Linked DNA regions of Homo sapiens. The protein of the gene in region 2 purifies or fractionates together with the protein of the main gene of each other region. This does not show direct contact. Each region holds a gene or a part of one and is shown on either strand. Other genes may lie near its edges.

Evidence for each region.
Region 1: the proteins of DGAT2 (region 2) and SLC27A1 purify together in Homo sapiens (affinity purification with western blotting, with the first as the bait; one study listed by BioGRID). This does not show direct contact.

Annotation. Positions count from the first base shown.
Region 1 is NC_000019.10:17,483,995-17,487,639, reverse strand, and holds part of SLC27A1 (long-chain fatty acid transport protein 1), read right to left. Parts: intron 1,078-3,645; coding exon 683-1,077; intron 467-682; coding exon 305-466; intron 181-304; coding exon 111-180; intron 1-110. UniProt on the Homo sapiens protein: Mediates the import of long-chain fatty acids (LCFA) into the cell by facilitating their transport at the plasma membrane.
Region 2 is NC_000011.10:75,767,143-75,770,887, reverse strand, and holds the start of DGAT2 (diacylglycerol O-acyltransferase 2), read right to left. Parts: upstream 2,111-3,745; 5' UTR 1,897-2,110; coding exon 1,776-1,896; intron 1-1,775. UniProt on the Homo sapiens protein: Essential acyltransferase that catalyzes the terminal and only committed step in triacylglycerol synthesis by using diacylglycerol and fatty acyl CoA as substrates. Required for synthesis and storage of intracellular triglycerides.

The DNA.
Region 1 (3,645 bases), on a different chromosome or scaffold from region 2:
TCCCCAGGGTAACATGGAGATGCCCACAGGAGCTGAGGGGCAGGTCAGGCTGGCAAGATAGCCTGGGTCACTCTCAGCGGCTGAGGGCATTATGCCTGTGGGCCCCTCACCTGCTGTGCACGACAATGGCAGCCTTGGGCAGCCCGGTGGTCCCCGACGTGTAGATGTAGAAAAGACGATCTGCAGGAGATACAGGTGTTAGGGGTGGGGCCTGAGCATTGGGGGGTGGGGCCTGGAAGTTGGGGGCGGGGCCTGGGCGGGTAGGAAACCAGTTGATAGAGCAGGGGTCCCACCCTTGACTCACCGTCCATGCCCTTGCTGGGGATCTGTGCCAAGGGGGCAGTAGAGGCCTCCTTCAGCAGCGGGTCCAGGAGGTGGGTGTCCGGCAAGATGCCCTCGGGCCCCAAGTCTCCAGAGCAGAACTTGATCAAACTTTTCCCCAGATGCCCGCTCACTTCGGCCACCGCTGTGGTCCCCAACACATGGGTCATGGTCACCGCCGGACAGGCCCCCTCCCGAGGCCTGGGATGCACCAACTCCCTGCCCGGGGCATACCCAGACCGTGCACCTCATGCCCACGTCCAGGGCGGCCGCCTTCCGAGGCCTGGGGCGCAGCATCTCCCCGCCCGCCCAGGGGCCAGTCCTGGGTCCCCGCCCACCTGATGCCCACGCCTGGCCTCACCCGCCACCATTTCTCCTCCAAAGATCAGGGCCTTAGCGCCCGAGGTGCCCAGGCAGAAGGCCAGGGGCTCGCGCCGCAGGTTCACGTTGAGCAGCGCGGCCTCCATGCCCGCCTTGGCCAGGCCCAGCCACAGCCCCACGAACTCCGGCCGGCCCTCCAGGAAGATGGCCACCACGTCGCCCGGCGCGAAGCCCAGCTGGCGGAAGAGGTTGGCTACCGCATTGGAGTAGGCGTCCAGCTGCGCAAAGGTCCAGCACTCGCCGGTCCCGGCATCCACCAGCGCCAGGCGCTCGGGCTGTCGCTGCACTACCGCCTGAAAGATGCGCGGGATGGTGTGGCCGGCACGCTGGTGCCGCCGCAGCTCCAGGCGCACGCGGATCAGCACAGAGAGACCGCTGGGAGGGAGGACGGAGGGGACAGCGTCACTGGTGCCCTGCCCCGCCTGGCCTCTGGGAGCCTCAGCCTCCCCGCTGGAGGACCCCAGGGCAGCCAGGGGCTTTGATGAGGTCTATGGTGAAACTTTTGGTGGCTGGATCTCTCAGTGGACCAAGGGCAAGGGCCATTTACCAACCAGCCAGGAAGAAGGTAGATTCTCAAAGCGTAATAAACCAGTCACCCTGTCCTCCCCCATACCCCAGCTGGCTTGGTGGCCCTGGGGGAGCTGGGGCCTGAACCCATCCTCCTTTCTGTCCCCTGCGACGTCTGGAGCACCTGACACCATCCCCCAGCACCTCCAGCCTGGACTCTTCATGCTCAGACCACCCTAACCAGGACCCCCAGGGTCCAGCCCCGAGCTGGGCAGCTGTTCTGCCCCCAGGTCACTGGGTGGCACCAGGGACAGATGGCTGAAGCATCTAGCACGTGTGCCCCCAACTGGGGAGGGATTGCCCCTGCCCCAGGTAGGGCCAGGAGATGTGCCAGTGGATGGGGGGTGTAAGGACCAATGCCAAGCCCAGATGGAGGGTTCCAAGTTCCCCTTCCCCACTCGCTAGTAGATATAACGGGCAGAGGCCCCAGGGAACTGCAGAGCCCCCAGTGAAAGGAGCCGGGTTCCTGAATGATTGTGTGGAGGCAGGCGGGCCACCACTTGCTGTTAGATGAATGAGAATGAACTGTTTTTTTGTTTTTTTTTTGAGACGGAGTCTCACTCTGTCGCCCAGGCCAGAGTACAGTGGTGCAATCTCGGCTCACCCTCCGCCTCCTGGGTTTAAGCAATTCTCCTGCCTCAGCCTCCACAGTAGCTGGGATTACAGGTGCCCACCACCACACCCGACTAATTTTTGTATTTTTAGTAGAGACGGGGTTTCATCATATTGGTCAGGCTGGTCTCAAACTCCTGACCTCAGGTAATCCACCAGCCCTGGCCTCCCAAAGTATTGGAATTACAGGTGTGAGCCACCATGCCCAGCCAAGAATGAACTTTAAAAACAAACAAACAAACAAACAAACAAACAAACAAGAAATGCTTTAGGCCAGGCGTGGTGGCTCACACCTGTAATCCTAGCACTTTGGGAGGCCGAGGCGGGTGGATCATGAGGTCAGCAGATTGAGACCATCCTGGCTAACACGGTGAAACCCCGTCTCTACTAAAAATACAAAAATTAGCCAGGCGTGATGGTGGGCGCCTGTAATCCCAGCTACTCCGGAGGCTGAGGCAGGAGAATTGCTTAAACACAGCAGGCAGAGGTTGCAGTGAGCCGAGATCACGCAAATTCACTCCAGCCTGGGCCAAAGAGCAAGACTCCATCAAAAAAAAAAAAAAAAAAGGAAACAAAAAGGAAATGGAAAGGAAAGGAAAAGTTTAGATCACAGAAGCTGGAAATTCAGATTTTCTTGGTTGAGAAGCTGGAGAAATGAGTGGTCCCCACCCCTTCCTGGCTCCCTGCCCCACCACCCTGCGCCCCTGGCTCTGGGAACCAATAACCTTGTACTGGGGTAAGCCACTGGAATGTGGGGTGTGTTTGTTGTAGTACCTGGCCCTGCCCAGCCCTGACCAACACAGGGCAGGGGCTCCACCCACCTGCCCCTGTTTCAGCCTGGCCCGGCCACTGCCTCCCTCCAGCTTCTGCATCAAAATCACCAAATCCATCCTTTGGATCTCCCCTGCCTTTCCCAGGCCTCCCCAGATCCCTGCAATGGCTGCTCACACCCCCCAAAATGTTCACAGTGGACTTCAGCACCTATATTCATTCATCCTCTCGGTCATTCATTCATGCTCTTCTTCGTTCTTTCCCTCTTTCATTCCCTCCCTCATTCTCTCCTTCATTCATTCCATCATTCATTCCATCTTCATTCACTCATTCCCTACTTCACTCACTCTTTCCCTCCCTCCGTCATTCATTCTTTCCCCCCTTCACTCATTCAGTACTTTTTTTTTGAGACAGGGTCTCACTCTGTCGCCCAGACTAGAGTCCATGATCATGGCTTACTGCAGACCTCCCAGGCTCAAGCAATCCTCCCACCTCAGCCTCCCTAGTAGCTGAGACTACAGGTGCACGTCACCAGGGCCAGCAAAATTTTTGTATTTTTTGTAGAGACAGGGTTTCACCATGTTGGCCAGGCTGGTCTCGAACTACTGGACTCAGGTGGTCCTCCCTTGGCCTCCCAATGTGCTGGGATTACAGGCGTGGGCCACCGCATCTGGTCTCATTCCATCCTTATTTATTATCTCCTTCACTCTTTCATTCCCTCCTTTGTTCATTTATTACCTCTTTCATGCATTTATTCCCTCCATCATTCATTCCCTCCTTTATTCTTTCCCTCCATTTATCATTTACTCCCTCTTTCATTCATTCATTCCCTCCTTCCTTCATTCATTCAGGCAGCTGGTGCATACCAGTGTCTGTTGTGCTTTAGGCACTGTTCTCAGCTCTGGGGACAGAGCATCCAGACCACCAGGCCCCACCCTCTGGGGTTCACAGTCCTCTGGGAAGAGAGACCCCTTCCATGTATATGACTGAATA
Region 2 (3,745 bases):
GAAAGCTGAACTGACTGGTTTGCATTTCATACCAGCCCTTCCTACATTCCATGATGTAAATCCTTGCACCCAGTTTAAAAAAAAAAAAGTTTTCAAGATCTGATAACAACATGGGGAAATGTTCCTGACATGATATTAAGTGGCTTGGTTAAAACCATTCGCTAGAGTACAAGTTCTCCTAAGGAACAAACTCTAAGTCAAAAACATGACAGCCAGGGTCACTGCCTCCTGGAAGACACAGCTCCCAGCCTGTGGATGGCAGAGCCGACGGAATGGGGTCTCCAGGAAGCACTACCACAGAGAACATCCCTATCCCACTGCCCAGTGCAAAAACATTTTTAACAGCATGAACAAGGGCAAGTCCATTCATCCATTGATGTCCCTAAGGACATCAAAGGACACAGGGAACAGAAAAGGACTCAAGTGAGAGAAGGGGCTGTCAGAGGCTACTGGCTGGATACATGGGGCAGCTCAAGCTGCTCGCCCCCGAGACAGGGCAGCAGCTGGGTTCCTCTTCAAGGGCTACGAGCAGCACCCACACCAAGAGGGGCAGATAACCACAGCGATAATCACACAAGAAGCAATGCCAATGCCTAGGTCACAGTTAAAGTGTGGTACAGCTGCAGGGTGGGTTATTGCAACCACTAGGACATTGTAAGTGATTCTGATTAACAGAAGGGAAACCTCGATGTTACATTAAGGGGGAGAAAACAAGATTCATAACTATATCTACAGCATGTCCTCAATTGTATCTATGCAATGTGTATAAAGAAAATGATCAAGAGATATACTAAAATGCTAATAGGAAGGTATCTTTGGATAGTCGATTTACCAGAAATTTTTTTCATTTGTCTATATTTTCAAAAATTCCATAATTAGCAAGCTTTATTTTTGTAACAAAGGTGGGCGGTGTAGGCGACCGTTAGTTACTAAAGAAAAATCCATGTCAGAGAGGCTCAGCAAACAGAATACAGACTTAGAAAGAGGGAGAGGGGCTTCATGCAAGACACACACGCAGACCAGGACAGCTGTGATGACTTCCCAGGGTCTACCGGATTTGTACTTGAATCCAGGGGTCAAGGCATCAGCTAAGGAAAACTTAGGCATGCTTCCTCCCACTTCAGTTTCTCCAGCTCTAGGTAAGGGAGGTGGGGGTTGGAAGAGTTGCTATTCCTCGCTTGGGAAAAGCTGCGGGGGGTGCGGGGCGGGGGTTGATTTCAACTCTGCGCGATTCACTGAGGACCTCAGTTCTACCTTGGAGGACATGCAGGGTCCTCTCCGCTGCCTTCTAAGCATGCCAGGCTCAAGAGTTGCTGCTATGTGGGCTCCAGAGCCTGGGCGAGAGGATGGATGTGGGACAGAGGACAGGGCAGACACACCTGTTCCAGTCGGGCATGTTCCCCGTCTGGTGGCTGTCTCAGGAGACGGCAAAACCCATACCATCCTGCCCATCCAGTCTATCACTGCCAAAGCTCGCTCTACCTGGTGAAGGGAGAGGGGAGGGAAGTGCCAGGGGTCACCAGCCGCAGTGGGGGCTGGGGAGGAGTTCTCGAATATCCCTAATAACTAAGAATGGTGGGTGGTACCGCTCCCACCTCACGGATGAGGGAAACAAGCTGGGGGGCGGGTGGAAAGCGATGTAACAGAGGTCGTAAAAATTGATGAGTGCCACAGTGGAGAATGAACGTGGACTCATCAGTACCCACCAGCCTGCCACAGGGCCCTTTCCAGAAAATCTTCTCGCAGGTCCATAACCCCTGCGCCGTGGCACTCACCCCATCTCCCAGACCCCTCGCGCGACAGCGCAGGTCCTCCGTGAGAGCGCTGGCTCCGGTCAGCCTCGGCCTGACGCTCGCCGCGCAGGACCCCGGAGTAGGCGGCTATGAGGGTCTTCATGGCTGAAGCCCGCCCAGTCACGGCCCCGCGGGAAGCCGCTTCACCCCGCGCCCCTGGCCCATGCCCCGGCCCCCGGGGCCAGGGCTTCGCGCAGAGCACAGGGGTCCCGGGACGGCGTCGAGGCTGGGCGGCTAGGACACCTGGAGCTGCGGCCGGCGGCCAGTGGTGGCGCGAGAGAAACAGCCTAGACCCCAGCAGAGGCGGCAGCCGCGGCGCTGGCGTCCCGGAGCGCAACACTTTATCACCTCACAACGGGGCAGGCGCCGACGCGGCGGGCGGGGCGGGCCGTTCTAAGCCGCCGCCCGCGCCACTTGCTTGTGGGGGAACCGCACCTGAGGCTCTGCTTGGCGCGGGCCCGGGGCTGGCCAGCAGCCTGCTCCGCGCGGATCCGGGGAATGCGTGAGAGGAGAGCAGCTCTGAGCCCTGCTTCCAAGGGGCGCGCCCGGTTATTCCCCTCGCTCCCTCAGTCCGACCCCGGGCGCTCCCCCGCGGAGATTGGTACGGCCCGGCGGCCAGTACCCGGGCGGGGAAAACCAAGCACGTGCGGTGCAGGCAGAGGGCGTGCAGGGGGTCGGGCCTTTACTCTTTAGGAGGGGCTGTCTTTTGGCAGCAAAGATGCGAAGGTCCCGCTTTTGGTCACTGGTATCAGGATTAGTTAGGTTAGGGCTGGGTATCTCAACCACCCAAACTGCTTCTGGCTTTCCATCTCTTTATTAAGAAACCTCACAGAGCACCTATACCCTGCTGGGTGCTGGGGACCCAGCCAGATCAGCCCAGGTTCTGCCCTTGGGATGCTCACGCTGGGGGGCAGCAGAGACAGCCGCACACAGTCACTGGTGACAACGGCCGGGACAAGCGAGAAACCAGGGGGCTATGGAACCACAGAGTAGAGAAGACTCTGCCCTGGGCTGGGGGAGTGGGGGCGCTGGTGCACTTCCCAGAGAGGTTGGTGCACAGCAGGTTTGGAATCAGATAGACTAGGAGTCCAGTTCTTGCCCTGCCTCTCTTGAGCCTCAGTTTCCATATCTGTAAAATGGGAATAATAATTATTATTTTTGTGAGGTACTTTGAGAAGTAAATGAGATAAGGTATAAAAAGAGCCTAGGTAGTGTCTGGCACATAGAAAGCATTCCAGAATGGTTTGCCCATTAATGAATAGGAATTTTGCAGATGGAAGGTGTGAGGGCAAAGCAGAAAGATAGGCATAAAGTGTTAGAAAAGCCAGCATGTTTGGGGCAGGGCTGGGGGCCCTGGAGTGGCTGGAGCCCAGGCAACTGTGGAAAATGAGGCTGAAGTGAGAGGCGCGGGTGCTTGAACTGAGAGAGGTTTGGGAGTGCCACTCTTGAGATATTGGGGGGGAGCCGGGTCTTGGGAGAGCTTTAGTAGGGAAATGGCTGGTCAGGTGGGTTTTAAGTGTCCTTAGCCATGGTATGGGAAATGGACAGGAGAGGCTGTAGGTCAGGAGGGCAGTGGGGAGGCTGTAGGGGCGGGGGATCCATGTGAGAGAGGATGAGCCTCAAGGCACGGCAGTGGTAGAGGGAATGGAGGGAAGGCCTGATCTAGGGAAGAGCATAGGAAGCGAGATCCACCAGCATGTGGTGGAGCGACTTGTTGGATGGAGGCTCAGGGAACGAGTGGGGACAACAAGCATGTCAGTGATAAGACAGATTTCTTAGGCATAGCTGGAGCGAGATAGCTGTGGGGTCACAGCATAAGAGGAGAGGAATTCCCTGCCTTTGTGGTCTTTATCATGTTCTCACAGGGGGAGAGGAGAATGACAGAAGTTACAGGCACAGGGCAGCAGGTAATAGATGCCTCTGGTGCAACCTAGAGATGCTTCCATTTGTTC